Linked DNA regions of Homo sapiens: regions 1, 2 and 4 are each linked to region 3. Evidence: fine-mapped expression QTL. A gene starts in region 3. Each other region holds a variant in brackets. All regions are shown on one strand. Distances are from middle to middle.

Region 1 (8,017 bases), 30 kb after region 3:
CTAGCTATGTGACTTTGTGTAATTTACTGTTTCTGAGTCTCAGTTTCTCTGGTAATAAAATAGACTCATAACATTTATATTCTGGGATGGGTGTGAGTATTCATGGAGACATGGATGTAAAGTTCTTGGCATATGGCAGGCATTGCATAAATGTTAGCTGCTTTCCTGGAGGATGTTTTTCTTCTCTCTTGCGTCTCATTTTCCCTCTGGTGGCCTATTTTTTGACCACTTCACTGTCAACAGTAGTTCCTTAGAGGACAAGCCACCGTGGGAGAGGCTGGCGTCATCTGTGGTGTTAACCAGCCCATGTTCTCTTGCCTTCCTTCCAGGATATGCCTGTTGCTACAGACACAACAGCAACTTCTGGCATGTTCCTGGCCCCTGTGGCTGGGGTTCTGGCCTCAGAGAAGACTGGCCCTGGGCACAGGGAGGCAGGGAGGGGCTCGGTTTGCCTTCTGGGCTGGAAGTCTGGGTGGAGGTTCAGCCTGGAATCTGTTGGAAGAACTTGGCTGGCTCCCTGCAAAAATGAAGTGCTCATCTTCCTGTCTACACGGGGCTCTTGGAGTCTGGAGCGGAGTTCCTGCTTCGGCCGAGGTCCAGTGGCACTGGCCTGGGTGTGATACCCAGACCCTGGGAGGGGGCCATAGCAGCCAGAGTGACACATAATCAAACTCCTGGCCCTCAGAATGGCACCTTCCCAGAGTAGGGTTGGCAACCGTGTAGATGCTTGAAGAGGCCTAGTGGATGGTTTACCATTCTGCCTCAGTGAAGGTTGGCTGAGCCCGCCTGGCGAGGGGACTCTCGACATTAGCAAGCACTGCCACCTCTTCTTGCAGACTTGAACGTGACCGTGGGGAGGACTATTTCAGATCACTAGGCCTCCAGGGGCTCCATTTTTCCCCTCCCAATCCTGCTCTTGATCCTGGGCAGCATGAGTGACTGTGGCTTTTGCTTAAACCAATTCACCATCCCAAATGAAGAAGGGAGTGGTAGTTGAGAGTGCCAGCTGACAGCCAGACTCCTGGGATCCAGTCCTGCCTTCGTCTGTCTGGGCTGTATGACCCTGCACAAACCATTTAGCTTATCTGTAAACGTGGGATAATTACAATACCTTCCTCTTGAGATTATTATGAGGATTAAACGAGTTGATTATTGTAAAGAGTTTAGATTCAACCCAGACACGCCAAGCCCACTAAATGTAAGCTATTATTGTCATTTTAAGGGGTATGTGCCTGTGAAGAGGGAGTATTCTTGAGCAGAATAAAAATGGTATTATTCTTATTATTTCTTTTTTGTTGAAAAATGGGGAGCATTTTTGTGGCAGCACTGGCCCACCTTCCCACTGGAGTGAGTTGTGGCTGCCTGGTGCAGGCAGGTGGGGCACCAGCTCCTCCATTTGCATAATCCCTTCCGGGTCCATTTCATTACTTGACTGCCCCTAAAGGCATTTGTTATTTTTGTTACAAATTAAAGTGTAGCATAAGGCAACAAAGATGTCAGGAGCCTAGGTGGGGCTAAGGGACAGGGAAAAGACAGACTTATCTGTGTGCAGGAGGGGACGGAACGGTTTGGGCTCCCACGGGTCTCAGAGAAAGGGATTAGAAGAAAGAGGGGAATGGGAATGCTGAGCCTGGGTAGCTTGGGGGTGGCTTTGCACCCGCAAATCTGTGGCTGGTATAGCACAGACCAGTAGATGCATTGAATTTGAGGCACCTGTTCAAAAAGCCTGTACTGCTAGCTCAATGAGGAGGCTCTGTTTTTTTTTTTTTTTTTTTTTTTTTTTGGTAAGGGGGTAGGTAATGTTGAGTGGGTTCACTATCCACCTGTCCTCTGTATCTTTCAGCCTTGTATCTCTTGCAACACAAGCATCTTGGGGGCAGGGGACTTGTCCACCTCATTAGAGGGTCTCTATCACATTCCTCATGGGAGGAACCTAGTGCTTGTCATACAGGATATTCTCAATAAATGCTTGCTGAATGAATATGTAAATGAATGAATGCAGAGAGCTTGCTTTCTGGTATAGCAACCTGAGAATTCAGCTCAACTTTTTAGAAAGCCCCTTGGTGTCCCACTCCCATCCCATGCACTTGGCTCCTCTATCTGGCTGGAGGGAAGGCAGCGTAGGGGTGGCAACAATGTTACCTTCACTTACCATTACATACCTAGAGCGTAGCTCAGTACCTGGCACATAATAGGTGCTCAACAAATATTACTTTCACTTACCATTGTATGCCTAGAGCCTAGCTCAGTACTGGGCACACAGTAGGGGCTCAACAAATATTGCTTTCACTTACCATTGTATGCCTAGAGCCTAGCTCAGTACCTGCACATAGTAGTAGGGGATCAACACATATTACTTTTACTTACCATTGTTACCTTCATTTACCATTGTACGCCTAGAGCCTAACCAAATATTTGGCACATTGTAGGTGCTCAATCAGTATCTGTTGAACTCATGAATGAATCAAATGGAAGCCTTATCCTGGAGTCTGAGTGCTGCAGTGGTGCTCTTATCAGCTGTGGGAACTTAGAACTCCTCTTTGCAACTCACTGGACCCCACTCACCCAACAGGATCACATGACACAGATATACCCTGTTATATAAAACTCATTGTGAAGGCATTCATGGTTGTCACTTATAAGGCATCATCTGAAGTCTGCTGTCACCCTGAACCCCCTGATGTCCTTGGCAGGCCATCTCTGTAGTTGTCTTGTCCCTTATTTCTTGTGCTGTTGTGTATGGACAGTCAATGGGCTCTGTTATCTTGTCATTTACCACTGCATTTGGAACCATTCCTCCATGGGTTTTGGGTTTTACTTATCTCACTATCTTAGATCCACTTTGTTCATTTTTTAAAAGGCAGCAGCTTCCAGAAGGACTAGGGAATAGTCTGAACAGTGACAGAGCTGCCTGTTACCCTCTGACAAGATGGTGTGGTGGGAAAGGGCTCCAGCCCTGGCCTGGGGAGCAGTGGGCTCCATGACCTTGGGCACAGTGACCTTGAACACTTCAGCTCTCTGAGCCTCATCTCTGGAGCCCTTTCAGATCTTTAGTTCTATGTCAATACACAGGAATGGGCTTTCTAGAAGTGGAATGATTTTTAAGTTGGTGTCTGCTTTTCAGGGAAATTGTAGCTGTTTTAATTTAAAAACTTTTCATTTATGCTTCTGTTCTAAGTGTAAAAACAGCACTAGCTACAAGGAATTCATATTTTGTGATTTATTAGGAGTATTACCATGATATCAGAAAA[T/C]GGCAGGGGCTTTTTTTTTGTTGAATATGTTTTTAAAAGGGTTGCTGCATTCTTAAGTGTAATTTTATTATATCCTGGGATGACTTTTTTTCCCCATGAAGAATAGATCTATGTTTTATAACAAGCCTTCACTACTGAGGCTGGTCGTGAGCATATTCTGTGGCGTTACATCATTTCCAAAGAGTGTTCTGGCTACAGGAGCATTCTATTTTCCAAGGAGATTGCAGAGACCAAGTAGCAAGGTTCTTTCTAGAAATCAGAGTAACCTGAGATGAGCCAGGCCTATGTCCAGCCAGACATTGAGGAGTCTTAGAAAGGAAAGGCCCTTAGGGATATACCAGCCCAACTCTCTTGTCATCTACATTAGGGAAACTGAGGCACAGCATGGAGAAGTGACTTCCTGCAGGTAAAAGGCCTAGAGTACACACTCCATTTCTGCCCCTCACTCATCACACATCCTTCACTTGGCCCAAACCCTGGTCCCCCAAATGTGAACATTGTTGTACGCAACCAAACCACTGCTGGTGCCTGAGGGTGACACCTGCTTTGTGTTATGATCTGCTTTCAAAGCATCTCATGGTGGAAGGGCTGCTCCTAATTCAGCATTCCAATCAGTTCTACTTGCCCCAGACCCTTTTTATCATCAGTTTGGCACTAATATCTAGTAGAGAGTTTATTGGCATAATTTCTTCAGAAAAGAGGCTGGAAGGCTTAGCAAGTTCAAATGATAACATTTTTATCAAGAGTCCCAAAGGACCACCCTTTTCCCTCCCATCACCACCACCAACACCAATAAGGCTTTCTCTAGCACAGGAAGTCAGGGGCAAAAAGCAGAAACAGCACAGGCCAAACCAGCAGGCACATGGTACATTATCGGATCAACCGGCAAGCAACCACCTGGGAGCCATCTTTGTTAAGGGCAAAATAATGAGCTCACGAGACACTGGAGGATACAAGACTATCTTGATTCTTCTGAAGGAGTGAGGGAGACTGGATGGGGTATTGGAGACTTTCCTTTCTGTTTTCTCAGAAAACATGCAAAGAAAGTCTTCACAAACAACTAAGGTTGTGTCAGTATCGCCCAACCTTCCCTTTTCAAAGATGGCCACCCCTGTTGTCCATTCAGAGGGAGCACACAGCAGAACCTACTGGGCGTGGAGAGAGAGACAAGCAGCAGGAGAGAGATTTAGTTTTCCACAAAGGCTGTTAGTTTTGTTTTGTTTTTTCCTTTATTGATGGGATTTAAAGTGCATATAACTGAAGGCAAAGTCCAAGGCCTAGAGAAAGATATGAGGCCCGAGAGAGAGGCTCAGAGATTCTAGAGGCGGCTGAAGAATACCCACCTAAAAAGGCCACTTGAGCTGCAAAAACGATGCGGCGGGGAGACAGAAAATGGGAAAAAGAGAAAGGGGGTGGGGACGGGGTGGGGGTGGAGGAAGGAGTTTGGGAAGAAGAAATTACCAGTTTAGAAATTCAGCCAAAGATGAGTAGTAGGAGTTAGTTTATATCCCAGCTATGAAAATACGGGCTGACCTCAAGGTAGGAACAGTTGTTTTAGGAAAAGTAAGAAGAATGATAGCCTCAGGCCAGGACACAGCATCCCCTGGCCCTTCAGGTGATGGTAGAAGTGATGGGGCTTCTCCAAGCCTCTGTCATGGTCTTCCCTGGAGACCCAATATGGGTCAAAGGAGACTCTATCCAGCCAGGAGAAGGAAGGGGCTGGGGACCTTGATCTGGGGCCTACCCAGAGCTCCCCAGTGGAAAGCAACATCCTTTTGCTACTGGCCTATGGCTGGGGCCCCACTCACCCACGCAGGCTGTGCCATCCTCGTTGGGCTCGTAGCCCCGACTGCACTTCTTGTTGGTCCGGCACCTGTAGCTTCCATAGGTGTTGACACATACGGGCTTGTCTCGAGGGCACACGAATGGGAACTGGATGCATTCATTGGTGTCTGCAAGGCGAGGGGAACCACTCACCATGAAGGTGTGGGGCAGCAAGTACCAGCCCAGGCTCTGCCTGCCTATACACTGTCTGGCTTTGGGAATGTGCCTTCCTCGCAGAGCCTCAGTTTCCCTGCTTCAGTTCCCTTGGCTGGCTCCTCCTGTACTTGGTCTCTACATGCTGGGGGCAGGGGGTGGGCACTCAGGCTTGGTCCTGGGTCCTCTCTTCTGTCTACTACAATCGTTCTAGGTGATCTCTTCATGCATGGATGATTCCGAAAGTTCTATCTCCAGTCACAACCTCTCCCCGTGGCTCCAGACTCACGAATACAATAACCCATGACCTACTTGACAGCTCCACTTGGATGTCTAAGATGCACCTCATGCTTAATATGTCCAAAATAGAACTCCAGATTCTGCCCTGCCCTGCCCATATTCTGGCCCTCTGTTCTGTCTTCTCTAGCTCAATCAACACCCCCATCATCAATCAGCTGCTCAAGGGGAAATCAGAGCGACCCCTGATTTCTCCGTCTTTCTTGCCCCCTGTGCAATTTCACAGCAGAGCCTGTCCACTCTGCCCCGCAGTCCACCAGTCCACCTCTCTCTGTCACCTCTTTCTCATTCCTCTGCCACCACCCAATTTCCTGCCATCGTGACCTCTTGCCTGGATTTCTGCAGCTGCCTCCTCACAGAATACCTGGCTTCCCCTCTTCCCTCCAATCCACTCTGCAATTCAGCAGCTGGAGGGAGCCTTTAAAAATGTGAATCACATCATGTCACTCCCCAGTTTAGCTTCTAAGGCTCCTAAGAGCAAAATTCAGACTCCCTACAGGGGCCTCATGGACTCTCCATCATCTCCAGGCCATACTGGCATCCCTCCTGCTCCTTCAACACACAAAGCCTTTGTCCTGTCTCCCGCTTTTCACTCCTGCCCTTCCCTCAACTCTTTCTGGGCCTAGATCCTTCTCATCCTTCAGGTCTCAGCTCAGAGTCTTCCCCCCGAGGCCCTCCCTGACCACTCTCTCTGGAACAGTCTCCAGGGAGCACCTTGCTCAGAGGGTTCTGAAATCATCTTGTCCAGGTGTGTGGTCATGCGTTCAGGGTCTGTCTCCCTCCACTAGAATGGATGCCCCTCTTGTGGAGGCGCGGGGGTGGCACTTGGCCTACATCCCCAGCTCCCAGCATGACACTTGCTGTGTACGAGGCACATAACTGCCTGTTGGGCGATGAAAAGGAAGAGGAGGCTGATCTCAAAGGGTCCTTCCTGCAGGCAGAGAAGACTCTGGAATTTCTATGCACCTGCACTATGTGTTTGGAGTGGGGCTGGGTGGGCATGTGGAGAGTGTAGGGGAGTCATTTCCTCCTCCAGCCACCCTTGGCACCACTGCTCCTCCACCTCCCCACCTGTGCTCCTTTGTTCAGACAGTGCCCCCCACCAGAACCATGTCTCCCCTCTCTGTGACTGCCGAACTGCTCCTCATTCCTCAGGGCCCAGCTTGGACCTCACTTTCTCTAGGGCACCTTCTAGGACCCTCCCTAGGCTGGTTTAGGGCCCCTGCTTTGTCATCTCCAAGCCCCTGCCCTCCCCCATCTGGGCCCTGATCACACTGTGTGGTCGACAGCTGTTTACTTTTGTGGCTCTCCATTGGTTTTCAGCTCCTGAGAGTGGTATCTGTCTTGTTTACTCCTGTATCTCAGTAGCAAAGGGTTAATGAGCAGCTGCAGAGTAGACTTGGGAAGAATGCTGGATGAGGGTTCAAGGAAGGAGGGATCCTTGGCCTGACCCCTCCTTGCTGGTCACTGGGATGGAAAGTGTTGGGGGTGAAGGTCTCCTGGACACTGAACTTCTAGGCTGCCCCTTCCCATTCCAGGCTCTTGGGGACTTTCAGAAGGTTCTTGGACCGTCAAGGAGCTGCCATCCTGGTAGTGCTGCAGCTACCTGCCTGCCCCAGTACTGCACCAGGCTGCAGTCTCCGTTCCACACTGTGACCACACTCCATACACTATTTTGCCCCAATGCCCTTGGCAATGCACACCCTTGCCTGCCAGCCCCCTTGCTTGCTGCTCCACATGGACTTGCTGGCCATGGCATGTGGCTATTCCCCCTGTGCCAGGTTGGTGGTGTGTCTCCTTCCCATCTGCAGTTTCTCGGTACTCATGGCAGGAAAACACTGCCAGTTTCCAGAACCGCAGTGATTCAGCCTGTGGGTCACTAATATCACTCCCACCCTGGTGAGTCATGTGGTGGTTGTCTTGGCATCTGGAGTCCCAGGACAAACAACACCCTCCCCTGTCCTCCTTTCTGCCCCTTGCTTGCACCCTGGACCTTGGCATGAGTCAGGCGGGCATTCCCCAGGGAGATTCCGGCCTCTACCCCATGCCCTGGTGACTGAAGGCAACTCACCCATGCAATGGCCATTTTCCTGCTGGGAGAATCCTTGGCCACACTGTAAGGTGGGCAGAAGCAGAGACATGAGTGAGTTGAGAAGGTCCCATCCCAGGTTCCCTCCTAGTCACAGCCACAGAGTAGTTGTCACCCTAACCACAGTGTGAGGCATGCTCTGAGCTCTGGGCCTGGGGGGAGCCCCCTCCCTTGTAAGACCCTTCCTTTGCGCTGAGAACAGAAGGCTGGCGGGAAGGCCATGAATGGATACGGTTCAGACTCTTGCTCATTTCCCTGTGCAAAGGATCCACACGAGCTGGGACGTCTAACAGAACCTGTCCCTTCTGTAGCATCACCCTGTGACTGAGGCTGGGTCTGTCAGGGCAAAGTGTAATGAGGGCTGGGAGATGCTTTTTGAGGTGTCTGCTCACTGCCCACATTC
Region 2 (8,017 bases), 39 kb before region 3:
TGGAGAGAGCCGCCCCTTCGCTCAGGGTTTTTAGCTGTCGGACCCAGCCCTGGGCACTCCTGGGCCTCCTCATCTGCTGCTGCAGGGATGCCTTGGCCTGCTAGGCTGTGAGCCTGCCCCATTCTCATGTTCTTGAAGTTCTAGTTATTTTAGTTCATGCTTACTTTGCTCCCGAGGGGCTGAGTCCTAAGAGGTAGTGAGCTTCGATCCCAAGCCATGTCCCTTCCCTGGGACTTCCAGGCCAGGGATGAGGCTTAGATCCACGATGCTATGTCCTGAAATGTGGATGTCACCACATCCATCTTCGAGGGTGCTGGGATTGGGCAAGGCATTCTTCCAGGAAACTTTTTGGTCTCCTGGAAATTTGCAAATTTACCCACCTGCTCCTCTGGAATTACTTCTGTGTACCAAGGGAGATTGGGCGTGGTGATCTTTGTCAGGCCATAGGAGGTCCTGGGCAATGAGTGTCTACTTGCCTCACCTTTACATAACCAAGAGAGGTTCCCAGGAGTCTCTTCCTCCAGCTGAGAATATTGGTGGTGCCTGGCGTGTTGCTGGTTCACCTAGTTGAAGTGGCCAGAAGCCTCGGTCCTGCAAAATTTATGCATTCAACAGTGTTTTTTTTTTTTTTTTGAGAGAGTCTCACTCTGTTGCCCAGGCTGGAGTGCAGTGGTGCGATCTCAGCTCACTGCAATCTCCACCTCCCGGGTTCAAGTGATTCTCGTGCCTCAGCCTCCTGAGTAGCTGGGACCACAGGCGCGCACCACCACACCCAGCTAATTTTTGTATTTTTAGTAGAGATGGGGTTTTGCCATGATGGCCAGGCTGGTCTCAAACTCCTGGCCTCAAGTGATCCGCCCACCTCGGCCTCCCAAAGTGCTGGGATTACCGGCGCAAGCCACCGCACCTGGCCACATTCAACAAGTGTTTATGCAGCACCTCCCGTGTGCTGGGCACTGTCCTGGGCAGTTGGGATATGCCAGTGACCAGTGTGCAAAACAAAGGTCCCTGCCCTCTGAGGCTACATGGTGATGTATAAAGCTCTGTTCTTGAATACAGCACAGTGCTGGGGGACCCAGATTGCCCTGTGTGTGTGTGTGTGTGTGTGTGTGTGTGTGTGTGTGTTTGTGTCCAGGACACTGGAAAGGCTTCCCATAAGAGGAGGCATTTGATGGGGTTTTGAATGCTGAGCGGGATTCACCAAGGCCCACAGAGGTAGAGCTGGGGAAGGGCACCCATGCCTGAAGGTCTGGAAGTGGGCGGGAGCTGCGCAAATTCAGGCTTGGAAGAACCATGTGGCAGGAGCCAGGAATACTCTGGGAGAGCAGTTTGCCCATAGAATTCCCAGTTTCTTGCAAATAAATTAGCTCCAGGAGGGGCCACTCAGGGGAAAAGGTGGCTGTAGGGTGGGCTGGGGCCCAACTCTAAGGGGCTTTGAATGCTTTGCAAAAGGGGTTGATCTGTGTATTTGTAGCCTCATCCTTAGGGCCCCCAGCAGTGGACAACTCTAGGGGGTGGCATCACAGAGGCCTCAAGACGAGTGGCACCCCATATGGTTGGGTCCTGCCCCCTTCCCAACCACTGGTTCCCGATCTCCCCCAGTATGCTCTCCAAGGGCTGGCTCTGTGGGTGCATGTTAGAGAGGAGCATCCTGACTCGCTGTCTCATCCCCACCTGTTCTAGAGATCACATTGAATAACTTTTCTCCTTCTTAGGTGCTGCGTGCTGCACCTCCTGATTTAGGACCAGAATTCATTAGCACCTGTTTTGGGCACCTCCAAGGGTGGGGACGATTCCCCTGGGTCTGTCTTCTTAGTTCAAAGCAATTCTTTGTGTGCAGTGTTCCTAACTGTGGACTCGACCCCCACATTTGAGTTTCTGAAACAGCAGCAGGTGGGAGTTGAGGGCAGAGGTCATCAAGATTGGCCCTTGGACCACGTGAACCTGCATCATCCTGTTGGAAATGCAGATCTCCAGCTCAGATCTGCCGAGTTTGAATCTCTAGGAAGGGGGCCTGGAGTCGGTTTTTGGAATGTGTTTCTCAAGCATTTCTTAATGTATGTCAAAGTTTGAAGACTACTATATATGAGAGCAGCTCCTTAACATTTTGGGAGCTGGGGCTAGGTCTCCTTGATTGGATGCATGCATTTAGCCTTCAGAGATAATGGGATCTGGGCTCAGCTGGCCTCTGCCTGATGTGGTCTAGGTCGCCAGAGTCACTACCTACAAGGCCATTGTTCACAGTGGAGAAAAGGTAATCCCTCCCTCCCTACCTCTCTCTCTCTCTCTCTCTCTCTCTCTCTTTCTTTCTTTCTTTCCTGATGGAGTCTGGCTCTGTCATCCAGGCTGGAGTGCTATGGCATGATCTTGGCTCACTGCAACTTCTGCCTCCCAGGTTCAAGCGATTCTCCTGCCTCAGCCTCCTGAGTAGCTGGGATTACAGGCACATACCACCAGGCCTGGCTAATTTTTATATTTTTTAGTAGAGATGGGGTTTCACCATATTGGCCAGGCTGGTCTTGAACTCCTGACCTCAAGCAATCCACCTGCCTCGGCCTCCTAAAGTGCTGGGATTACAGGCATGAGCCACCCACGCCCGGCTGGAATCTTTCTTTGTTTTTGAGACAGGGTCTCACTCTTGTCGCCCAGGCTGGAGTGCAGTGGCACAATCACAGCTGACTGCAGGCTCAACCTCTTGGTTCAGGTGATCCTCTCACCTTAGCCTCCCAGATAGCTGGGACCACAGTCATGCGCCACTGTCCCCGGCTAATTTTTATATATATTTTTTGTAGAGACGGGGTTCGCCATGTTGGGCTCAAGTGATCTTCCTGCCTTACCCTCTAAAAGTGTTGGGATTACAGGCATAAGCCCCCATGCTTGGCTGAATCTTTCTTATTTGAAACTAAATCTCCTTCCCCGAGATTTCTACCCTGTGGTTCTGGTTCTGCCCACTGGAGTCAGACCAAGTAAACCCAGTGTGTCTTCCAGATGGCACCCCCGCAGACATCTGCAGGCTGCTGTCATATCAAGATCCCTGGATTTTTTGACCAGTTTTTATCTATTATGATCTCTAGACACTTTACTCTCCTGGGCACTCCCTTGAATGATGACTCTGTGCTATGTGCTTTCTATGTATTCTTATTTAACCCTCCCCGCATCCCAATAAGGTTGGCTTTATTTTCCCCATTTTACCTGAGCAAAGGTAGGTCCAAAGAGGTGAAGAGACTTTCCTAAGGTTACATGACTAGTTTGTGCCAGATCTGGGATTTAAACCTAAGGTCAGCTAGACACCAAAGCCAGAGTGCTATTATGACCCCCATTTTACAGACAGGGAAACTGAGGCTTAGAGAAGTCAAGGACCTACCTAAATCACACCACAGCAAGTGACAGAGCTGGGATATGACTCCAGAGCCTACATTACTTTTTTGGAGACGGGAATCTCACTGTCGCCCAGGCTGGAGTGCAGTGGCATGATCATAGCTCACTGTAACCTAATCTCAACCTCCTGGACCCAAGGGATCCTCCTGCTTCAGCCTGCCAAGTATCTGGGGCTACAGGTGCATGCCACTATGCCTGGCTAAGTTTTTATAAAAAAAAATTTTGTAGATATAGGGTCTTGTTATATTGCCCAGGCAATATAACAATTCCTTGCCTCAAGTTTTCCTCCTGACTTAACCTCCCAAGCAACTGGGATTACAGGTGTGAGCCACTATGCTTGGCAGAGCCTGCATTCTTAATCATGATGACAAATACTGCCTTCCCACCTAGTAATCATGCCTATATCAGGGGCTTCGCTGCTGAACACAAGGGCTGCTAAGCACATAGTTAGCAGCCAAAAGAAATATTGGATAATAGGATTATTGATATTATTATTAGAGATTGACACTGTTCCCACCTAATATGACATATATATATATGGACAAATATACCTGTCTTATATCAAAGGGAATTTTTTTTTAACTTGACATACTGTAAGATGACCAAAATTGCTGTTGCTTGGGTGGGTGCAGGAAGATATTTCAAACCATCCTTGGGAGTGACTGGTACCATTCAATACCATCAGTAGTGTTTTTTTAGCTTTTTAAATTAAAAAATACATATTTTTGTAGAGACAGGGTTTTGCTATGTTGCCCAAGCTGGTCTTGAACTCTTGAGCTCAAGCAATCCTCTCACCTCAGCCTCCAAAGTGCTGGGATTATGGGGGCGAGCCACCACACCTGGCCTACCAGAAGTGTTTACTGAGTACCTAGCACAGGCCCAGATGCACAGGGCCCCTGAATCAGATCCTATAGCTGTCAATTCACAGTCAAACCTCCTTCCTTGTAGACTGAAAGAGATTTTGTTCTGGTATCAGGTAACTGTGTTTCATGACCCCTTCTCCAGCTCCAAAGGCCATATATTAATAAGCCCATACCATTTGTCTTATCTCTGATTACATATATTTCCAGTCCTCTTGCTAGTG[G/A]TTGCCTTAGGTCTGGGCATGTGATAGGTATTCAGCGGTCTAACAATTGGCCAATGAGTCATCAGGAGATGTGTGCATCGAGAGAGCAATGGGAAAATTGTAGTGGCTTTTAAGGCAAGGCGTACAAAGGCCTCTTCCTGTCTTTTGGATATTATTGCGTGAGAATGAGATGTTTGTCACTGTCACAGGCCTCTATGACCGGGTTGGGTAAGCCCAGAGAATGCCAGAAAAGGTGACCCGAAGCCCTGATTTTGTTGCGCCACTGAATTAACATAATCTGGATGTCCCCTGCCTCCAGGCTTCTTGTATGAGATTATAAGTGTCCTTATTACATAAGCTACTTTCAGTTGGGCATTCTGATACTTGCAGCCAAAAGCATAACCTAAATGCTTATGGTCCCTAAAGAGCTTACAGGGCTCCTGGGGAGATAAGGAACACACTCAGGTATCATTAGGTCACCATATGGCAGCAGGAGGTAACAGCACCAACCACACAGTGACAGGCAGGACATTAGGAGAGAAGGGTGAGATCTGGGAGAAGGAAGAGGGGAGGTGAAGCGTGAGTGGGCTTGGGATTCAAAATGACTTAGAACTTGGGCTTTTTGTTGTTGTTGTTGAGATGGAGTCTCGCTCTGTGGCCCAGGCTGGAGTGCAGTGGCACGATCTGGGCTCGCTACAACCTCCGTCTCCCAGGTTTGAGCGATTCTCCTGCCTCAGCCTCCTGAGTAGCTGGGACCACAAGTGCACGCCACCACACCTGGCTAATTTTTATATGTTTAGTAGAGAGGGGGTTTCACCAGGTTGGCCAGACTGGTCTTGAACTCCTGACCTCAAGTGATCTGCCCACCTTGGCATCCCAAAGTGCTGGGATGTGAGCCACCACACCTAGCCTAGAACTTGGGCTTTGAAACCTGCCTCTACCGCTTACTGGCAGTGAAGCCTTGGGAAACGGACTTAACCTCTCTTGGCCCCAGTTTCCTCATCTGTCAAGTGGGGATAATACTAGGGGCTAAATCATGGGGCTTTGTGAGGATTTGAAAAGCCATTGAGCATGGTGCTTGGTACATGGCAAACTCTCAAATGAAAGCCATTGTGATGATTACTCTGGAGACATGAACCACTGTGAGGACCCTGGCTGCAGCCTCAATCCTGCCACCTGTCCCGAACCAGCTGAAGCACTTTCCTCCCGCTGCAGGTGCAGGCTCAGGTGGGCATGAAGAAACTCTTTAGCAAAGATCTTCCTCCAGGATGCTTCTACTTCTTCTTGCTTGTGCTATGCTCTTGTTCTATGTGGTTCTGGACGTCAGGGCTCAGCTCTGACCTGGTACCCAGACTTCAGGCTTCCTATTGAACCTAAATTGGTCCCTAGAATTGTGTCTTTTTTCTAGCCATGAATTTGGGCTCCCTGGTCTTGAAGATCTTGAGCTACCCTTTTTGACCCGCCCCAGTTTGATGCTCTGAGGGTGGAACCTCCTTGCTGATAAGTTGGCTCACAGGTGGCTGTGGATTGGTGCTTCTCCAGCTTCTGCCTGAGAGCACCCCTGGAGACAGAGGCGTGTGAACACCATTCAAGTCAGCTACGAGTGAGAAGGGTGTCTAAAGCCTTGTGTCTGATCTTTAATTCATGTGGATTTTGCAGCACTTCCTGACTTGAACAAGTCATTATAATATAAAAAGTTTAAGATAATTTACCATCAGGAAAGAATACAAAGAGTGGCTGCCCTATTCATTAATGCATGGGATGCAGCTGCAAAGCATCTAGCTATTTTTTTTGTATTGCACTGAATTGAAAAGAGATCACATTGCCTCACAGATTAGCTTTTCTCCTCTGTCCAAGGTTACAGTATGTTAAAAACCCAGGTCCATGTAACTCTGTGGCTATAAAGGGCAACAGTTCTTTGTATGGCAGCTTCAGGTAATCGCCGATGAGAGACATCTGGAATACCACCAGAGCAGTGGGCCCGTGTAGCATGTCCAGCCTTCTGTTGGCAGGCTGGATAGCCTGGGAAATGATGAGAATACTCTCCCTGACCTGGTGAAGCTGCAGAACTCTGTCTCTTGCCACCCTCCAGGTCTTCAACCAGCCGGCCCCTGCTTCTTCAACCTGCTCTCATTCATGTGACTTGAATCCTGCAGCCTGTATCTGTCTGCCTCTGCCCTTTGAGTCGGATAGGATGCAGGTAACAGAAGACCCCATGGACAGTGGCTTAAACCACGATGACACTGAATTATCTGAGAAGTCTGATCCAGAGTTGATGAGCAGATAAAAAATGTTGAAAGGATCCACGCTCTTTCCATCTCTCTGCTTAGTCATCCTCACTGTGTTTGCTTTTCTTCAGTTTGTTACTTTTTTTTTTTTTTGAGATCGAGTTTCGCTCTTGTTACCCAGGCTGGAGTGCAATGGGGCGATCTCTGCTCACTGCAACCTCCACCTCCCAGGTTCAAGCGATTCTTCTGCCTCAGCCTCCTGAGTAGCTGAGACCGCAGATGTACACCACCACACCCAGCTAATTTTTGTATTTTTAGTAGAGACGGGGTTTTGCAATGTTGGTCAGGCTGGTCTTGAACTTCTGAGCTCAGGTGATCCGCCCACCTCGGCCTCCCAAAGTGCTGGGATTACAGGCATGAGCCACAGTGCCTGGACAAGCTTGTTACCTTTTGATGGCAAGATGGCTGCCACAGCTTCAGCCATCGTGCCCTCACTCAACCACATTCAAGGCAAGAAGGAGAAGAAAGGGACAGTTTCTTCCATTAAATGTCTATCTCTTTTATCAGGAAGCAAGAAGCCCTCCCTCAGATTTGTCTTTATTTTTCACTGGCTGGAACTGTATCTTGACGGCAAGGGAAAATGGAAAAGTAAGAATCAGGGAAAAGCAAATGAGATTACTTTGTTTGTTTAGCCCAATCATGATTCATCTTCTGAGGCTGGAACAAATATCAGAGTCTGTAGCAATAAAGAGAAGGCAGTGACTTTAGGGTAGGCACTAACGGTGCCCACCAGTCTTTCTAATTTCCCATGTCACCCTCAACTTCTCAGGCCCACCCCTGGCCTGCCTGAAGAGCCTCAGGAGAATGCCCCCTTCTTTGTCAGACCCTCTTTGTAGCTATTGAGGCCCTCTTCGTACTTTGTTTTGAAATCTGTCATAGGGAAGACATGTCCTCTTTCGTCAAATCTCACAGAATTGCGTTCTGTGCCAGTCTGTAGGTGACAAATGACTGAGATAGAGACAGCTCTCACCCCGGCACATCTCAAAGACTACTGTCTCTGCGAACAGAGATTGTTCTGAAGAAAAGGCTGATCATTAGCCCCCCACCACAAAATTATTCCCCAAATCAAGTTTGGGTAAAATGACTATCCCTAGTAATTGGCCATTTTTATAGACAGTTCCGCGCATTCGCATTGCTTTCGAATGCAGGGTGGCCTAGGAGGGGCACGCTTTCTTCTGCAGGTAGAAGGAAGGGCACAGACTTGGGAGCCCAGGTTTGAGTCCTAGCACTGACAGTGTGACCTGGGGCAAGTCCTTGAACTTCCCTGGGCCTCTATTTATGTCCCTCT
Region 3 (8,017 bases):
GTTTTGCAGCTTCTAGCCTTGCCTCCCCTCTGACATCCAGTGGAATCTTTCAAAAACTGCAATTAGATGATGTCACACCCCTACGCTAAACCTTCTTAGGCTTGCCATCTTACTTTATGAGTAGAATCTGAAGTCTTTATCAGGGCCTACAAAACCCTGGAAGACCTGATTCCTGCTACCTCTCTGAGCTCAACTCCCAACTCTCTTCCCCTTGTTCACCTCAGGTCTAGCTACACTGGTCTTCCAGCTATTCTTTGTTTTTATTATTATTATTTTTGGGGACGGAGTCTCACACTGTCACCCAGGATGGAGTGCAGTGGTGTAATCTCGGCTCACTGCAACCTCCGCCTACCAGGTTCAAGTGATTTTCCAGCTTCACCCTCCCAAGTAGCTGGGATTACAGGCAGCCACCACCATACCTGGCTAATTTTTGTATTTTTAGTAGAGATGGGCTTTTGCCATGTTGGCCAGTCTGTTCTTGAACTCCTGTCCTCAAGTGATCCACCTGCCTTGGACTCCCAAAGTGCTGGGATATAGGTGTGAGCCACTGCGCCCAGCCTCCTGCTATTCTTTGAACATACCAAGCCCAGTCCTGCGTCAGGGCCCTTGGATTCTGTCCTCTCTGCCTTGTCACTCTTCCTCCAGGTATCTATATGTCTAGTTCTCTCTCTTCCTTCAGGGCTCTACCCAAATTTCACCTTATCAAAAAAAGTATTCCCTGACTATTCTTTCGAAAATAAGCCCTCTCTATCACTATCTCCTTACCATATCTTCTTCCTAGCAGTGATCACACTTTTCTTCCTAGCAGTGATCAAAACTTGACATATTTTACACATATTTGCTTATGTCATGGATTGTTACCCCCATTACTATATAAGTTCAATAAGGACAGAGGCTTTGCATTTTTAGTCACGACTGTATCCCAATTTCCTAGAAGAGTGCCTGATACACAGTAGGTGTTCAACAAATAGATGTTGATGAATGGATTTGTTGAATGGCCTCATCCAGATATCTAGTCATCAGGTGAAGAGAATGGTTTCCAGAAGGTTGTCTAATTGATGTGATAAAAATCAAGTGGGAGGAACTGTGAAATTTACATGGAGATCATCAGATTATGTGTTCTTTTATTACCAGTGACCACTGCAGGATTCATAGATATTCTGTTTGGTCCTTTATGCCAAATCCTATGCCAAACTATAAGGTAGAATGAGACACCCGCCTTTAACTTCTTTAGCATGTCACTTACACTCTGGGACTCAGCGTTTTCATCTGCAAAATAGGCAGCTGGAGATGTGGTCATTGCTCTGCTAGTCTATGGTCTACCAGATGCTGGAGGGAGGCAATACAGTTAGGAGGATCAACCACACAGGCTCTGGAGCTTGACTGCCCATGTCTGAATCCTGTCTCCATTCCCCACAAACCCTATGACCTTGGGCAACTTACTCAGTTCCCTCATTTATAAAGTGGGAATAATAAAAAGATCACAAGAACACAACTCAAAGAGTAATTGTGAGGATTACGTAAGATCATACATGTAAAGTGTGTAGCATATGGGCTGGCACATGGTAAGTGCTCACTAAATGTTAGCTACTAAAAATGAAAAGTTCTGGGAAAATTTTTGAGGGGTCATCGCTATTAATGTGTTTTAGGGGTGACAAACTGTTCTAGAATATTAGATAATATGGGCATTTTAAAAGCATGATAATTGGCTGGGTGCGGTGGCTCATGCCTGTAATCCTGGCATTTTGGGAGACTGAGGTGGGCGGATCACCTGAGCTCAGGAGTTTGAGACCAGCCTGGCCAACATGGTGAAACCCTGTCTCTACTTAAAATACAAAAATTAGCTGGGTATGGTGGTGCGTGCCTGTAATCCCAGCTACTTGGGAGGCTGAAAATCACTTGAACCCAGGAGGCAGAGGTTGTAGTGAGCTGAGATGGTGCCACTGCATTCCAGCCTGGGTGATAGAGCAAGACCCTATCTCAATAAAATAAAATAAAATAAAGCATGAGAATGGTGTTGTGCCTAGTTGGGATAACGCTTTTCTTCTTGGGAGATGCATGGTGAATTGAAGTACTTACAGATAAAATCTCATTGAAGTACTTACAGATAAAACCTCACGATGTCTGTCACCTTATTATTATTATTATTATTATTATTTTTGAGACGGAGTCTCGCTCTGTCACCCAGGCTGGAGTGCAGTGGCGCAATCTCGGCTCACTGCAAGCTCTGCCTCCTGGGTTCATGCCATTCTCCTGCCTCAGCCTCCCCAGTAGCTGGGGAGTAGCTCCCCAGGTGCCCACCACCACGCCCGGCTAATTTTTCTGTATTTTTTAGTGGAGACGGGGTTTCACCGTATTAGCCAGGATGGTCTCAATCTCCTGACCTCATGATCCGCCCACCTCGGCCTCCCAAAGTACTGGGATTACAGGCGTGAGCCACCGCGCCCGGCCACGATATCTGTCACCTTCTGATAATCTAGGCAAATATAGCTCTGTTTTCATATCTATCAATAAAGCAAATGTGGCAAAAAGCAATTGTTGGAGCTAGGTAGATGGCATAGTTTATTGTACTATTCTTTCAACATTTTGGTATGTTTAAAAATGTCAAAATAAAAGGTTGGAGAAAAAACAAAAGGTCCTAGAAACAGTCTAGTGAAATCCAACACTCACATTTTACAGAAAGAGAACCATAAGCTCAGAAAACAAGACAGTTGCTCGAGGTTATACAGCTGGAAAAGCCTGGGCCAGGTCTCTTGGCCGCCAGGTTCTCCCTGTGTGTGGGCTTCAGACTCTCAGGCAGCAGTGAGCTGCAGAGGAGCACACCCCACCACCCCTCAAAGAGACCAAGGGGTATTATGGGTATGTAAAAAGGCACTTGTGTTGGTGTTTCCTTTTTTTTATGTCTATTTTATTTATTTATTTATTTATTTATTTTTTGAGACAGAGTTTCGCTCTTGTCGCCCAGGCTGGAGTGCAATGGTGTGATCTCAGTTCACTGTAACCTTTGCCTCCCGGGTTCAAGCAATTCTCCTGCTTCAGCCTCCTGAGTACCTGGGACTACAGGCGGGTGCCACCATGCCTGGCTAATTTTTTTTTGTATTTTTGGTGGAGATGGGGTTTCAGCATGTTGGCCAGGCTGGTCTTGAACTTCTGCCCTCAGGTGATCCACCCGTCTCGGCCTCCCAAAGTGCTGGGATTACAGGTATGAGCCACTGCTTCCGGCCTTATTTTTATTTTTTTAAGAGACAGGCTCTTGCTCTATTGCCCAGGCTGGAGTACAGTGGCACAATCATGGCTAGCTGCAGCCTTGAACTCTTGGATTCAAGTGATTCTCCTGCCTTAGCCTTCTGAGTAGCTGGGACCACAGGCACACATCACAACGCCCGGCTAATGTTTTCATTTTTTGTGCAGACAGGGTCTTGCCCAGGCTGGTCTTGAACTCCTGGGCTCAAGCAATCCTCCCACCTCAGCCTCCCAAAGTGTTGGGATTACAGGTGTGAGCCACTGCACCTGGTCTCCTTTTTATTAAACAAATAGATCATTTAGTTGGAATTTATGATGTCAAAAGTGCGAAGGTGGCACCAGAGCCAGACCTGCCATCCTTGGAGAGTGAGCATACCGGTTTGGCACCATCTGCTTGTGGTTTTTGAGTGGTGGTGGTAGTGGTGGTGCGTGTATGTAAACTCGGGTTGCAGAGGAGAGAGGGAAGAGTAAAGGGTGGGGACCAGGTCCAGGAAGAGCAGCAAGGAGAGACTGGCTTCAATTCTGGAGCTGCCTGAAAGAAGGGACCCCAGGCTATGGCTGAGAACGAAATGTGGGCACGTATTTAAAGAAAGGAAATGATTCTCTGCGGTCGGCAGGATCTTTGTCTAGCTAGTGGGGTTCCAGGAAGTGCAAAGGAGAGGGGAAAAGAGGGGCCGTCCGTGCAAGCCTGACTGTGTGTATATGGGGGGGGGGCACACAGAGAGGAAAAGGGAGAGAAAGAAAAGAAATTATTCTAAAGAGGAAGCTGGGGGCGGGGCGAGGGAGGGGTAGAGCCGGGGCACTGGGGGTGGCTGGAAAGGTAGAGAGGCCTCACCTGCGGGCCTGCGAGCGGCTCGGGAGCGGTCAGCCTTGCAGGCTGAAGCGTCTTGCCCCGGAAAAATTCCTGCCCCACTGTCCTTCAGGCTGGATGTCCCGGGGGCCACGGAAGCGAGCGCAGAGCTCCGGGGCTCTCACGAGGGGGAGGGCAGGAAGGGGAGGCGGGGCCTCGCGCGGGGCGGTAGCCGAGCCTGTGGCCCGGGCGGGGCTCCTCTCCGGCGGCGCCGGAGTCTGGGGGCCGCGGCTTCCCCCTCCCGGCCAGCGGCGGCTCCTGGCCCCTCCTCCCCCGGCCGCCCCCATCCCCGCCGCCGCCGCCGCCAAAGCTAAACCCGGCCGTTGCCTGCAGGAGCCGCGGCAGCGGGCGATCGGGCCGTGAGGAGCCTCGGGCGCGGCCTCGCCTCCCGGGCCCGGCGCCTGCCTCAGCACAGCGGACAGCGCCGCGCCCCTTGCCTGGACCCAGCCGCCCGCCCGCCCCCGGCCCACCTGAGCCCGGGCCCGCGGCGCCCGCATCAGCACTGCGGACAGCGCCCCGGGCCCCAGCTCGCCGCCACCGCCGCCGCCCACCTGCTCCCGGGGTCAGCACCGCGGAGACCCCCCTCGCCCGGCCCCGCGACAGCCTCCGAGCGCCCCCGGATCATGGCCACCGAGGTAGGGGCGAGCGCCCCACCCGCAGGCAGTGCCCGATTGCCGCGGGACCAAATGCCCTAGGGGTGGGCTGGGCAGGAGTGGGAGGCGGGAGTTGGGGGTGGGATGGGGTGATTCCCCAGGTCAGGTCTGGAGGGAGGAGGTAGGGGCTTAGTGAGGGCTCATCTCCCCCTTGCGTGTCAATCTTCCCCTCGCCCCACCTGAGCCCCCAAGCTGTCCGCGACACTTGTTGGCATTAGCGCCAGGGTTGCTTCAGGGCCCCAGGCTGGGGTTTCCCCTTCCCTGGACTTCACAAGTCCTGAAACCGCTTTCCTAGAGGGTTGGAGACGCGTGTGTGTGCGTGTGTGAGGGGAGGGAAGGCGGCTGTCCGCTGTTGCTATGCAGTCAGCTTCTGAACCCAAAAGCTTGGCTAAGGGATGACAGACTTACCTCTACATCCGCATTTCCTTTGCGGGAGGGAGGGGACAAAGACATCCTCAGGCTGAGAACCCAAATGGTTGGTCTCCACTTTTGCATATCACCCTTCTTGCTTTTTTACCCCATTCGAGTTTTTTTTTTTTTTTTGTCCCAGGGTGTCCAGATTTCCCCTCCATCTGATGGGAGTTTCTGCCTTCTTCAAGGTGCACTGATAGGTGTGTCACCTTCAAGCACTTGAAGGCTGAACCACGGGGCCTGTTAGCTAAGGGCAGAATCTTGGTATAATGCTTGAGGTCGAGGATTCCCCCCTCTACCCCTAGGGATTGCCCTTTCCCCCCTCATTTCAGGAGGGAGATTGGGCTCTTTATGTTCCCACTTTATACATGATAAAGGTGATGTGTGGAAAACGAAAGGACTAATTTGCTACTCCACACAGCATGTCAGCAGCAGAGCGGAAAGTTTTTGCCTTTGAATTTTTGGAGCGAAACTCAGGACATCAGGGTCTCCCCAGTTCTGATGTTGACTTCCTTTGTGGTGTCTCCCCATTTCCAATCCAGCTGGCATACACTGGGGGAGAGCAGAGGCCTGTGAATGATTCAATGCAGTGCTTCTGGGCATCCTGGTGAGCAGTGTGACATTAATACCAAGTGTGGCTGTTGTTATTCCACTCAAGTTTCCACCACAGAACAAGGTGCTGTTGCTTGGCATTGCTTGGCATTCTGACAAGGCACAAGGTTAGCTAGGCGGAGAGTTGCCCCTCAGGACTTGGTGTGAGGGCAAGCCCTGGGCAGACCCTGGGAGCTTGGTTTCTAGAGTAGAGGAATGCAGAGTACTCACAAAGCACCAAAGACATGGAGGACAGCAGGAAGAACAAAGGGAGAAACCAAGGAGTTGGTTACCTTCCAGATAGGGCTGCCAGACTGCAGCAGAGGCTGCTGTGTTGGACAGAAAAGGGGAACTTCAGCTACATGGGCATGGCTGGGCCAGCAGCGTGGGCAGAGAAGGCAGCTGCCTCTGCGATGTGATCTGACAGATTCCAACAGGCCCATCTGTCCCAGGATGTCTGCCATGGCCCACAGATTCCAACCAGCAGGCTTCTATCTCTATGTCAAGACAGCGTTTCCAGGAGGCTGCTATGAGACATGTGTGACTCTCCCCTGGGAGGGGCTCTGCTCATAACGCCTCTGAAAATATTGCGCTTTCCTGTGTACAAAGCACTATCGCATAAGTGATCTCTTTCAAGCCTCAGAGCAGCCCTATGAAGTGGGTAAGGATGGTGTTATTATGCCCAATTAACAGATGAGACAACTAAGGTTCAGAAACTTGCCTGGTCCCTGTGAAGGAGCCAAAGAAGGCATCATTATCCCATTTTACAGATGATGGAACTGAAGTGCTGAGACTTATTCAGGAAAATATGGCTAAAAGGTGGCAGGGATGGGATAAGAACTTGAGTCTTCTGCCTCTTTGGCCAGTGCTTTTTTTTCCTGCATCCAATTAGCCTATTGTGTCACCTGATAGAGAGGAGGGCCCTCCAGGTCTTGATGTGAAGCTTTGGTGGAGAGAGGGATGCAAAGGAAGTCATGAAGGGCTGGAGTGTGGGGACTCAGGCCCCCTGCTTGGCCTGGCTGGGTTGGTTTGAGGGCAGAGGGACAGAGGAAAGTCCCGGAGTGATGGGGAGCTGAGGACAAACATTCCTCACTTCACAATTTGGCCTTGGGTGGACTCTGATGGCAGAACTGAGGCAGGAAGCCTTAGCTCTGCCAGGGCACAGGACCTGCACGTATTCTGGGTTGTGGGGTGAGTCATTCTCCCAAGGCTGTTTTTACTGTTAGAATTGAGTTGAGATTACCAGGATAAACTTGTTGGGAGAGGGAAAACATCGCTTTAAGTTCCCATGATTATTCTGTTAGGATTCTCAATAGGAACTCCTCAGCTCTAGGAGAAGCTGTATTGAGAGAAGGAGAGAGGGAGAGGAAGGGGGTGGGGAGAGGGACAGAGAGGGAGGGGTGAGGGAGAGGGAAGAAATTCATGGGTGGAAACTGGGTCTTTTCTGTTCCCTAATTTCTGTTTAGGAGTTAGCATTAGGGGAGAGGTGTCTGTAAGGAACTCAGAGGAGGGATGGAGCCTCCTGAGTGATACACTGACCTCATTTGGAGAGCTGCAATGAGCCCATTTTCTGAGCAGCAAACCTCTGTGAATGTGTGTCACTGGGAGCAGGGTCTGCCCTGGGAAATAGTCCAGATGGCCAAGGACAACTGGGAAGTGCCTGGCTGGGAGGGGCTTCTCCAAGTGGTGGGGTTTGGTCTCTAAGAGATTTTTAAATGCATCCAAGTAGCGTTATTCAAGCAGGGTGTTTGGAGGTTTGATCTTTGAGGCATGGAATTAATGATGAGTAGACAACTGGGTCAGGCTTGAGCACTGGTACAGGCTGAGAAGAAGGGAGGTCTTGTGGCTGGTGTTTTATCCTTAGGCCTGACCTGGCTGTCTGTGACTCATGATCCTCACTCCTCCTTCACACCCCAGCCAGGAAGCAGAGTGCTGGCATCAGCGGAACCTCCTAATTCTCGATGCCTCACATGCATCCTATGGAATGAGATGGTTTTTAATGAGGATGAAGATGGCGCCAGGGGGGCACTCCTGTTGGACTTGGGCAGACTGGACCAGGAGCTCATTTGCACTCTAGAGCTTGTTCCTCTGCACCCCAGCTAGTTGACTGTCAGGTGAACAGGAGCCAAATGTGTGACCTGTGGTACCCACTCTCCAGGCAGACTCCCCCTCCTTCTCATACTGCAGTTTGAAAATTGGTACCCATGGGTCTCACCACTGATTTTCTTCCTTATGAAATGCTTCTCGGCCCTGTCTTCACTCTGCTGCC
Region 4 (8,017 bases), 28 kb before region 3:
TCAACCCCAGCTGCACACAGGAAGCCCCCGGGAAGCTTTAACATTTCCTGATGCCAGGACCCCATCCCCAGAGATTTGGATTTAATGAATCTGGGGTGCAGCTGGTGTTGGGATTTTTAAAACTCCCCAGGGGATTCTAATGGGCAGCAAACTTTGAAAACCTCTGATCTGGATGGAGCAGGGAGGGTGTTGTTTATGGGTTTTCCTTCCATCTGTTTTAGTTGGAAGCAACAGACCGACAAGCAGGACACAGACTTCTAAGGGTAATGCTGTTTTTTTTTTTCTTTGAGATGGTGTCTCACTCATTCCGATTGTACAGTGGCATAGTCTTGGCTCACTGCAACCTCCGTCTCCCAGGTTCAAGTGTTTCTCCTGCCTCAGCCTCTCGAGTAGCTGGGATTACAGGTGCTCACCACCACGCCTGGCTAATTTTTGTATTTTTAGTAGAGACGGGTTTTCACCATGTTGGCCAGGCTGGTCTCGAACTCCTGAGCTCAGGTGATCTGCCCGCCTTGACCCCCCAAAATGCTGGGATAACAGGAGTGAGCCACCGTGCCCGGCCTGGGTAACACTTTTGCTGGTAACACCAATAGCTGAATGCTGTTGTCAACATTCAACAAGGTGAATGGACTATGAGGAGGACGGAAAGAAGCCTAAGATTCAAGCTCCCAATCTGTGCCACATGCATCATGTTTGCCACTTAACGGTCAGTCCTGGGAGTTTACAGATGAGGAGCTTGAGTCTTGGCCAGGCTAAGGACTTTGCCTGCGCCTCACAGCTGTGGAATTGTAGAGCCTTAAATGAAATTGATGTGTGACAAGGTGCTGGTAGGAATGAAAGTCCTTCCTGTTGCTTTCAGATTGATTTTCTAAATAAAGTATTTCTGGGGTCAGCTGGTGGAGGAGAGGGCTTGGGAAAGAACTGGGCCCCGACTCCTCTCTGCCTGCAAGATAGAGGGTGGGGAGGAGCTGAAGGCTATTTTAGGCCCCGTCCCCCATCAGATTCTGTCGGAATCTGGCCTCAGCCAGCTGCCTCAAGTGATTTTAAGGAAAAATACCTCTCCCTCTGCTTAAAGACAAATAGATCCCTGAACGTAAAGTGAGTTGACTAGTGTGATAAAAACGGGCCTCCTCCTTGCCTCCAAATTCTCTCACACACACACACACACACACACACACACACACACACACGTATGCACACATACACACACTCAGAGTTACCGCAATTCCACCACCTAGGTGATTAGATTGAGCCAGAAAATACTCATGGGAGGGTAAGTGGGGAGACAATTCCATCTGTTACAGCATATTATAGGTTACAGAGTACTTTTATAGGGGGCTGATCCTACATTCTCAGCAGACCTATGCATCCTGCTAGACAGCAAACACCGTGGGGAATATGCCACAGAGGCTTCTGTAGATGCAAAGAGAGAGCATTTAAGGTGAGGCTTGGAAGATGCTGAAAGTTGCTCTTTAATGGGTAACTTTATGCAAAAGAATTGTCCCACTGGCTTCCAAAGCAGTAACAATGCTGTGAGCAGCTTTTTGCTGTGGTGACAAAAGTTCACTTTCTCCTACTGAGAGTGGTTTCTGCATTCTCAGTTGGTTCATGCAGGAGCAGTGGGCCAGGGAAGAGAGCACCAGGGCTGGTTGGATTCCTGCCTGTCCACTTATGGGCTCCCTCACCTTGGGTGAGGGGATTAGCCTCTGAGTCCTGGTTTCCTCCTATGCATGTTGGGGGCTTCTGCTTCTGGCCAAGACAGGGTAGCAGGGACTGGATTTATACTCCTGCCTGAAACAATTTTTAAAAAACAGACAGAACATATGAAATAATGGTTTTCAAGACACTAGACATTAGGCTACAAGATTCAGGGGTCCCACAGAGCTCTATGGTTGTCTCTGCTTACTACCTGGAGAGTGTTTTCGGCCACAACCCAGAGAGGGGGAACTCGGGCCAGGTGGGGAGAAATGGAAGTAAATTCTGTAAATGTAAGGTTCTTATACTCGATGTGAAGTGGCACAACATCACTTGAAGGTAAATTGTGAAAAGGTCAAGATGTGTACTATAAACACTAAAGCAACTGCTAAAATAGCAGAGTTACAGCTGCTAAGCCAATAAAGAAGATAAAATGGAATAATCAAAAATAGTCCAAAAGAAGGCAGAAAAGGGGAAAAAAATAGATGGAACAAATAGAAAACAACCTGGGGCTATGCCAGGTTCCCCTGCCTCTCCTCCTTGGAGTCAGGAGGTCCCAGCCCTGCCTCCAAGCCACACTGAACCTTGGTTTTCTCATCTGAAGAATGGGATAGCAGTTCTGACCTCTCAGGGATATCCGAGGGTTCCTCGGGAGTGTGGTGCCTGGTGCAGGATGGCTGCTTTCCCTCTTCTGTCTGCCTGGCCCAGCTCCTGCCTCTGCGCTCCTCTCCCCTCTCTTACTTGGGGGTACTTTTCTCCCTTGGACTGCCCCTGCCTCTCCAAGGCCTTCTGGGAGCCAAGTGGCTTGGCCCTGCCAGTGGGCAGGTTGAAGATTTTTCCTTCAAGACCCTCGAAGGCCAGGTGGTCAGGGGTTGGGGGGCATGAAAGTTGAGTGAGACTAAGCTTTTTGCTTTTGTTTTTGTTTTTATTATTTTTAATGTTTCATTGTGGTTTTTTTTGTTTGTTTGTTTGTTTTTTTTTTTTTTTTTAGATAAAATTCACATAACATACAAGGAACCGTGTTAAAGTGTACAATTCAGTCTGGGTGTGGTGGTCCACACCTCTAATCCCAGCACTTTGGGAGGCCAAGGTGGGAGGATCACTTGAGTCTAGGAGTTTGAAACTAGCCTGGGCAACGTGGTGAAACCCTGTCTCTACAAAAAGTAGAAGAATTAGCTGGGTGTGGTGGTGTGGGAGCTGGGGGTGGGAGGCTGAGATGGGAGGATGGCTTGAGCCTGGGAGGCAGAGGTTGCAGTGAGCCGAGATCACCCCACTGCACTCTGGTCTGGGCAACAGAGTGAGACCCTGTCTCAATAAATAAATAAATAAATAAATAAAAATTATACAATTCAGTGGCATTTAGTATATTCCCAATGTTGTACAACCACCAGTTTCAAAACCACTAGTTTCAAAATTTTTCGTCACTCCAGAAAAACACCCTGTGCCCATTAAGTAATCACTCCTCATTCTCTCCCTCCCCCCAGCCTCTGGTAACCACTCATCTGCTTTCTCCCTTTATGGATTTACCTATTGTGTTCATTTCATTTCAAAGGAATCATAGACTCTGTGGCCTTTTATGTCTGGCTTCCTTCCCTTGGCGTAATGTTTTAAGTTTCATCCATGTTATAGCAAGTGTCAGCACTTTATTTCTTTTTAATAGCTGAGTAATATTCTATTGCATGTACATAACACGATTTGTTTATCCATTCAGCCGTTGATGGACATTGAGTTGTTTCTACCTTTCGGTTACTGTGGATAGTGCTGTGATGAACATTTGTGAACAAGGGGAGTCCCTGTTTTCAGTCATTTCGAGCATATCCAAATGCGTGGAGTTGGTGGGTCATACGGAAATTCTGTTTACCTTTTGCAGAAACTGCCAAACTGCTCTCCACAGTGGCTGTACCTCCTTTTAGTTTTCATATTATATTATTCTAAGTGCAAAGATAAGACAACGCCATAGAAAATTTGGAAATTATGCCTTGAGCAATTTTTTTAAAAAAGTTTTCATTTTAAAAAATCATAAAGTTTATATAAATCCATGCTTATTGTAACAATTCAAAGACATTTCTAGCAGAAAAAAGTCTATCTGCTCCTCCATCACTTTCCCCCTAGCTGATAAATGTTGACCCTTTAGTAAGTATCTTTCCAGACATTTTCCAGGCATTGATAGAGTTTTGGGATTTTTCTTTTTACATGAACTTGTCATACTATCCATATTATTTGCTTTGAAATCTTTCTATGCATTTCTTGTGAATTTCAAGTTGGAAAGACTGTCCCAGAGCCAGGCGGGTGGTCCCTGGAGGAGAGACCCTCAGATCTGTGACCTGTCCTTGCTCTGTTAAAAAAAGTTTGGAAGTCTGGGCCACAGGTATGGACAAAGTTGTCCTTGAGTGGATGGATAAAGAATGTATTATAATTTTCTTTTTGTTATCTGCATATATAAATTCTTTGTAAAATGAGTATGAATTGCTTTTATAATAAGAAAAAAAAGTGGGGAAGAATTGAGGGCCTGCAGTCTTGGTGCCCAGCTTGTACCTTAATTTAGCACTAACTTCATTCCTTCTCATTGCATAATGAGTTGTTTATGTGTTTGCCTCCCTTGAGGGAGGACAGGCTTATTCATCTCCTTGCCCTCCCGACTCCTTCCCTGCTCAGG[T/G]CTGAGCCCCATGCCAGGCACACAGCAGGATTGCTGAACCAGCAAGTAGCCCCTGCAGGGTTGTGGTGGAGGCTGCAGAGGAGAGGGTGGGTCCCAAAGACCCCCATATGCCCTCAGCTCAGGCTCCCAAAGGAGAGTGCATAGCCGGGGGAGTCCAGGCCCCCAGGACCAGGCTCCCAGTGGTCACACTCTCTGCAGGGGCACTGGGCCCAGCCTCTGTGGGAAGCTGGGTGTGAGCGCAGGTGCAGTTATTCATGGCAGCCCTGGCCAGAGTACCCATGGCAGGCGGCATCCAGCTGAGGAGTTAATTAGAGCACTGCCAGGAGCAGGAAAGGGGGGCAGGAGGCTTGGAGGCTTGGGCTCCCTTTCCATAGAGATAGAAATAGCTGGGCTCCTGGCGGAGGCGGAGAGCAGTACACACAGGAATGGAGGTGCGAGCAGCCAGCGCCTGGGGCACAGGGTGGGGGTTGTCTTCTTGGGCTTGTCCCGTCATTCTTGTTTGGGAGGGGGAAGGGGAAGGGGCATGTGGTCTGTGGCCCGGAGGGGGCCTGTCCGAGGCCCTTCTTCTCCTTCCTGGGGCCTCCCCATCTGTCTCCCAAGCCTGGCCTGCCCGGGCTCACGGGGGGCATCACAACAGCCCCAGAGCCCTGGCCTCACCTTCCTGCCTCTAGCTTTCCATGAGAAGCAGGCTATGAAGGGGTGGGGTGGGGTTCCAGAGCTCAGGATCATTCTAGCATTTCTAGGGGGTAGTCCCTGGTGGTGCTGGGCAGCTCCGTGCCTGACTCATCTGAAAACACTTTATAAATAACCTGGCAGAGGGACGTGGGCTGTCCACCCCCGTACCCGCCACACTCTGTGAGCAGGTGGCAGCACCGAGGTCCTGAGGGCTTTTGAGATGTCCAGGGCAGGGTTCTGGTCAGAAGCCAGGCCCAGGGGGATGCCGGGAGGGAGTGTTGTCCACCTCTGGTGAATGGCGCTGCGGGGGTTCTGGGCACCATGGAGTCCTCCTCTCAGCTGTGATGTTGTCAGCGCCACAACCTTCGATGGGAGCATTGGGGATTTCTGGCTGGGCAAACTGAGCCACTATGGACTAAAGTTGCTGGGAAACCTGGGATGAGTCACTTCCCTTCTCTGGGAACCCTCATTGGTAAAATGAAAAGGTTGAACTAGGTGAGTACTAAGGTATATTTTTTATTCTCCTTGGTGGGTACAGGTTGGTGTTCCTAAATTAGATACCACAAATATTTACTGAACCCTCATGTCCCTGCACTGTGCTAGGCAGCTCTATGCAATTATTAAAAAAAAATTTTTTTTATTTAGAGATAGTCTTGCTCTGTTGCCAAGGCTGCAGTGCAGTGGTGCGATCTTGGCTCACTGCAGCCTCAACCTCCCAGGCTCAAGCAATCCTTTCATCCCAGCCCCCTGAGTAGCTGGGACTACAGGCGCACACCATTACAGCCGTCTAATTTTAAAAGTTTTTGTAGAGATGTGGTCTCCCTGTGTTGCCTAGGCTGGTCTCAAACTCCTGGCTTCAAGAAATTCTCCCTCCTCAGCCTCCCAAAGTGCTGGGATTATAAATAGGTGAGAGCCACTGCACCTGGCCTTTTTTCTTTTCTTTTTTTCTTGAGACAGAGTCTTGCTCTGTTGCCCAGGCTGGAGTGCAGTGGCACGATCTCAGCTCACTGCCACCTCTGCCTCCCGGGTTCAAGTGATTCTCCTGCCTCAGCCTCTCAAGTAGCTGGCATTACAGTCGCACGCCACCACGTCTGGCTAATTTTTGTATTTTTTTTTTGTTTTAGTAAAAATAGGGCTTTGCCACGTTGGCCATGCAGGTCTCGAATTCCTGACCTCAAGTGATGTACCCACCTCGGCCTCCCAAAGTGCTGGGATTACAGGCATGAGCCACCATGCCCGGCCTCAAATATTTTTTAATAAGGCTCATTTGCTGCTAGTTAGTGCATTGGGTAGGGGCCCATGCCGGTCAGGCCACATCAGGGTCTCAGGCCAGGGCAACAGCTGTATACGTGTCAGTCGTCTGAAGGATTAGCAAGGGAGTGTGGCCACGGCTCAGGCAAAGGCAGAAAACACCTGACACCGAGAGGGAAGGGCACGGTGGGCTCTGATGCTTGTCTGAATTTCCCTCAGCAGCCCCATTCACCAGATGGGCCCTGGGACTCGCTCAAGGTCCCATAGCTGGAAGTGATGGGGGCCCTGGGAGGACCCAGGTGTTCTGATTTCAAGCCCGGTTTCTTGGGAGGAATGCTCATTGTTTCTATATTCTCTATTTGGAAATATCTCAAGTAGACACGATGGCACCAGGAGCAAGAGGCCACTGGGCAGAGAAGGCAGGGTCCTGCGTGTTCCTGATCAGGCCTGCTCTGGTCTCAGGCTGGGGAGGACACTGTGTCCTGGTGCTCGGCGGTGTCTGGCACAGATGGGCGTGTGTGGGTGGGGCAGGAGGAGGAGCAGTTACCCGCAAATGGAGCCTGCGTGCTGGACACGGAGAGTCTCTCCCTTGTCAGGCCTAAGGGGACACCAGGAGCCCCCCGGGCAGGAACAGTATCTGGGCGGCCAGCGGTTGGACACAGGGCTGCAATAGGGTCTGATTTTGTTCCTGAGGAAGAAGAGACATTTGACTGGTCAGCCACAGAGGGCAGACGAGGATTCTGGACGCAGATTTCAGCGTGGCACAGCCTGTGTACTCACTGCTGGGGCACTGCCACCTGTGAGGTGATGAGCTCCCAGTCCCCCGATGAGTGGTCTTCTGTGAGGGTGTGGAGGAGGGGACTCCATGAGGGAAGGGCTGGATTAGGCTGGTGGTCCCCAACATGGCAGCACATCAGAATCCCTGGAGGAGTTTGCTTATGGTACAGATCCCCGAGTCGCCCCCCGAGCCCCCACTAGATAGGACTCCCCAGGGATGAGCTGCACAACCTCCACGTCAGGCCTTCAGAGGCTGGGGCTCCATTTATCCCAGCCTCCCTTACCCACCCCTGAGATACGCTGTTGAGGTTTCAAGCACAGTGCAGCTGCACATGTAGTAGCAGTCCATAGACAGAGAACAAACGGCAACCTCAGGAGACTGCGGATTCAGAGCTTAGTCAGTGGATTTGGTGGCTGCACACAGCTTGGACAATGGCTTCCCTGCAGGCCACTCAAGAGACTGATGTCAGGTGTCATGCCTTTGGGGATTAAGATGCTGAAAGGGTTTTGATATCTTTCAAGGGAAACAGAGCTACAGGGCCTTCAACAAGCTGCTTTGCTCCTGCGGTCAGTCCAGTTCAACAGTAGTCTCTGGCTGGGTGCGGTGGCTCACGCCTGTAATCCCAACACTTTGGGAGGCCGAGGCTGGAGGATTGCTTGAGGCCAGGAGTTCAAGACCAGCCTGGCCAACATGGCAAAACCCCATCTCTACTAAAAATACAAAAATTAGCAGGTGTGGTGGTGCACACTCGTAATCCCAGCTACATGGGTGGCTGAGGAACGAGAATTGCTTGAACCCAAGAGGCGGAGGTTGCAGTGAGCCGAGATTGTGCCACTGCATTCCAGCCTGCGTGACAGAGCCAGAGTCCATCTGGAGAAAAAAGAAACAAAAAACAAAAAACAAACGTGGCCCCTGATGAGGGGGAGCCTGGTGCAGTAGGAAGAGTGCGGCCAGGGGCAAGT

Which allele goes with the higher level. Positions count from the first base shown, and alleles are read on the strand shown. Sizes are in standard deviations (SD) of each study's normalised expression.
With allele T in place of C in region 1, the expression in unexposed skin of the gene that starts at base 4,256 in region 3 is lower (small effect, 0.15 SD a copy in GTEx).
With allele G in place of A in region 2, the expression in visceral fat of the gene that starts at base 4,256 in region 3 is lower (small effect, 0.35 SD a copy in GTEx).
For the expression in subcutaneous fat of the gene that starts at base 4,256 in region 3, allele G in region 4 goes with a higher level than allele T (small effect, 0.21 SD a copy in GTEx).

Evidence for each region. PIP is the estimated chance that this variant, and not a neighbour inherited with it, causes the effect. A credible set is the group of variants that fine-mapping cannot tell apart.
Region 1: its variant is the best candidate, but not a certain one, in a credible set for the expression of GOLGA7B in unexposed skin (GTEx, PIP 0.83).
Region 2: its variant is the best candidate, but not a certain one, in a credible set for the expression of GOLGA7B in visceral fat (GTEx, PIP 0.53).
Region 4: its variant is the best candidate, but not a certain one, in a credible set for the expression of GOLGA7B in subcutaneous fat (GTEx, PIP 0.82).

Annotation. Positions count from the first base shown.
Region 1 is chr10:97,875,190-97,883,206 of GRCh38, forward strand. It overlaps CRTAC1 (cartilage acidic protein 1), which reads right to left. Exons shown (of 15, transcript NM_018058.7): 13 at 7,597-7,639; 14 at 5,060-5,203. MIR3085 (microRNA 3085) reads right to left here and starts at 708; the gene lies at 624-708. RefSeq lists enhancers at 635-1,135, 6,815-8,014 and a silencer at 7,303-7,597. The variant T/C (reference allele first, on the strand shown) is at 3,252.
Region 2 is chr10:97,806,114-97,814,130 of GRCh38, forward strand. No RefSeq gene overlaps it. Among named protein-coding and RNA genes, the nearest start is that of SFRP5, 38 kb to the left of the region's middle. The variant G/A (reference allele first, on the strand shown) is at 4,463.
Region 3 is chr10:97,845,588-97,853,604 of GRCh38, forward strand. GOLGA7B (golgin A7 family member B) reads left to right here and starts at 4,256. Exons shown (of 5, transcript NM_001010917.3): 1 at 4,256-4,728. The coding sequence starts at 4,717. GOLGA7B-DT (GOLGA7B divergent transcript) reads right to left here and starts at 4,211. Exons shown (of 3, transcript NR_108035.1): 1 at 4,079-4,211.
Region 4 is chr10:97,817,168-97,825,184 of GRCh38, forward strand. LOC107984260 (a long non-coding RNA gene) reads left to right here and starts at 4,730. Exons shown (of 3, transcript XR_001747563.2): 1 at 4,730-5,521. The variant T/G (reference allele first, on the strand shown) is at 4,352.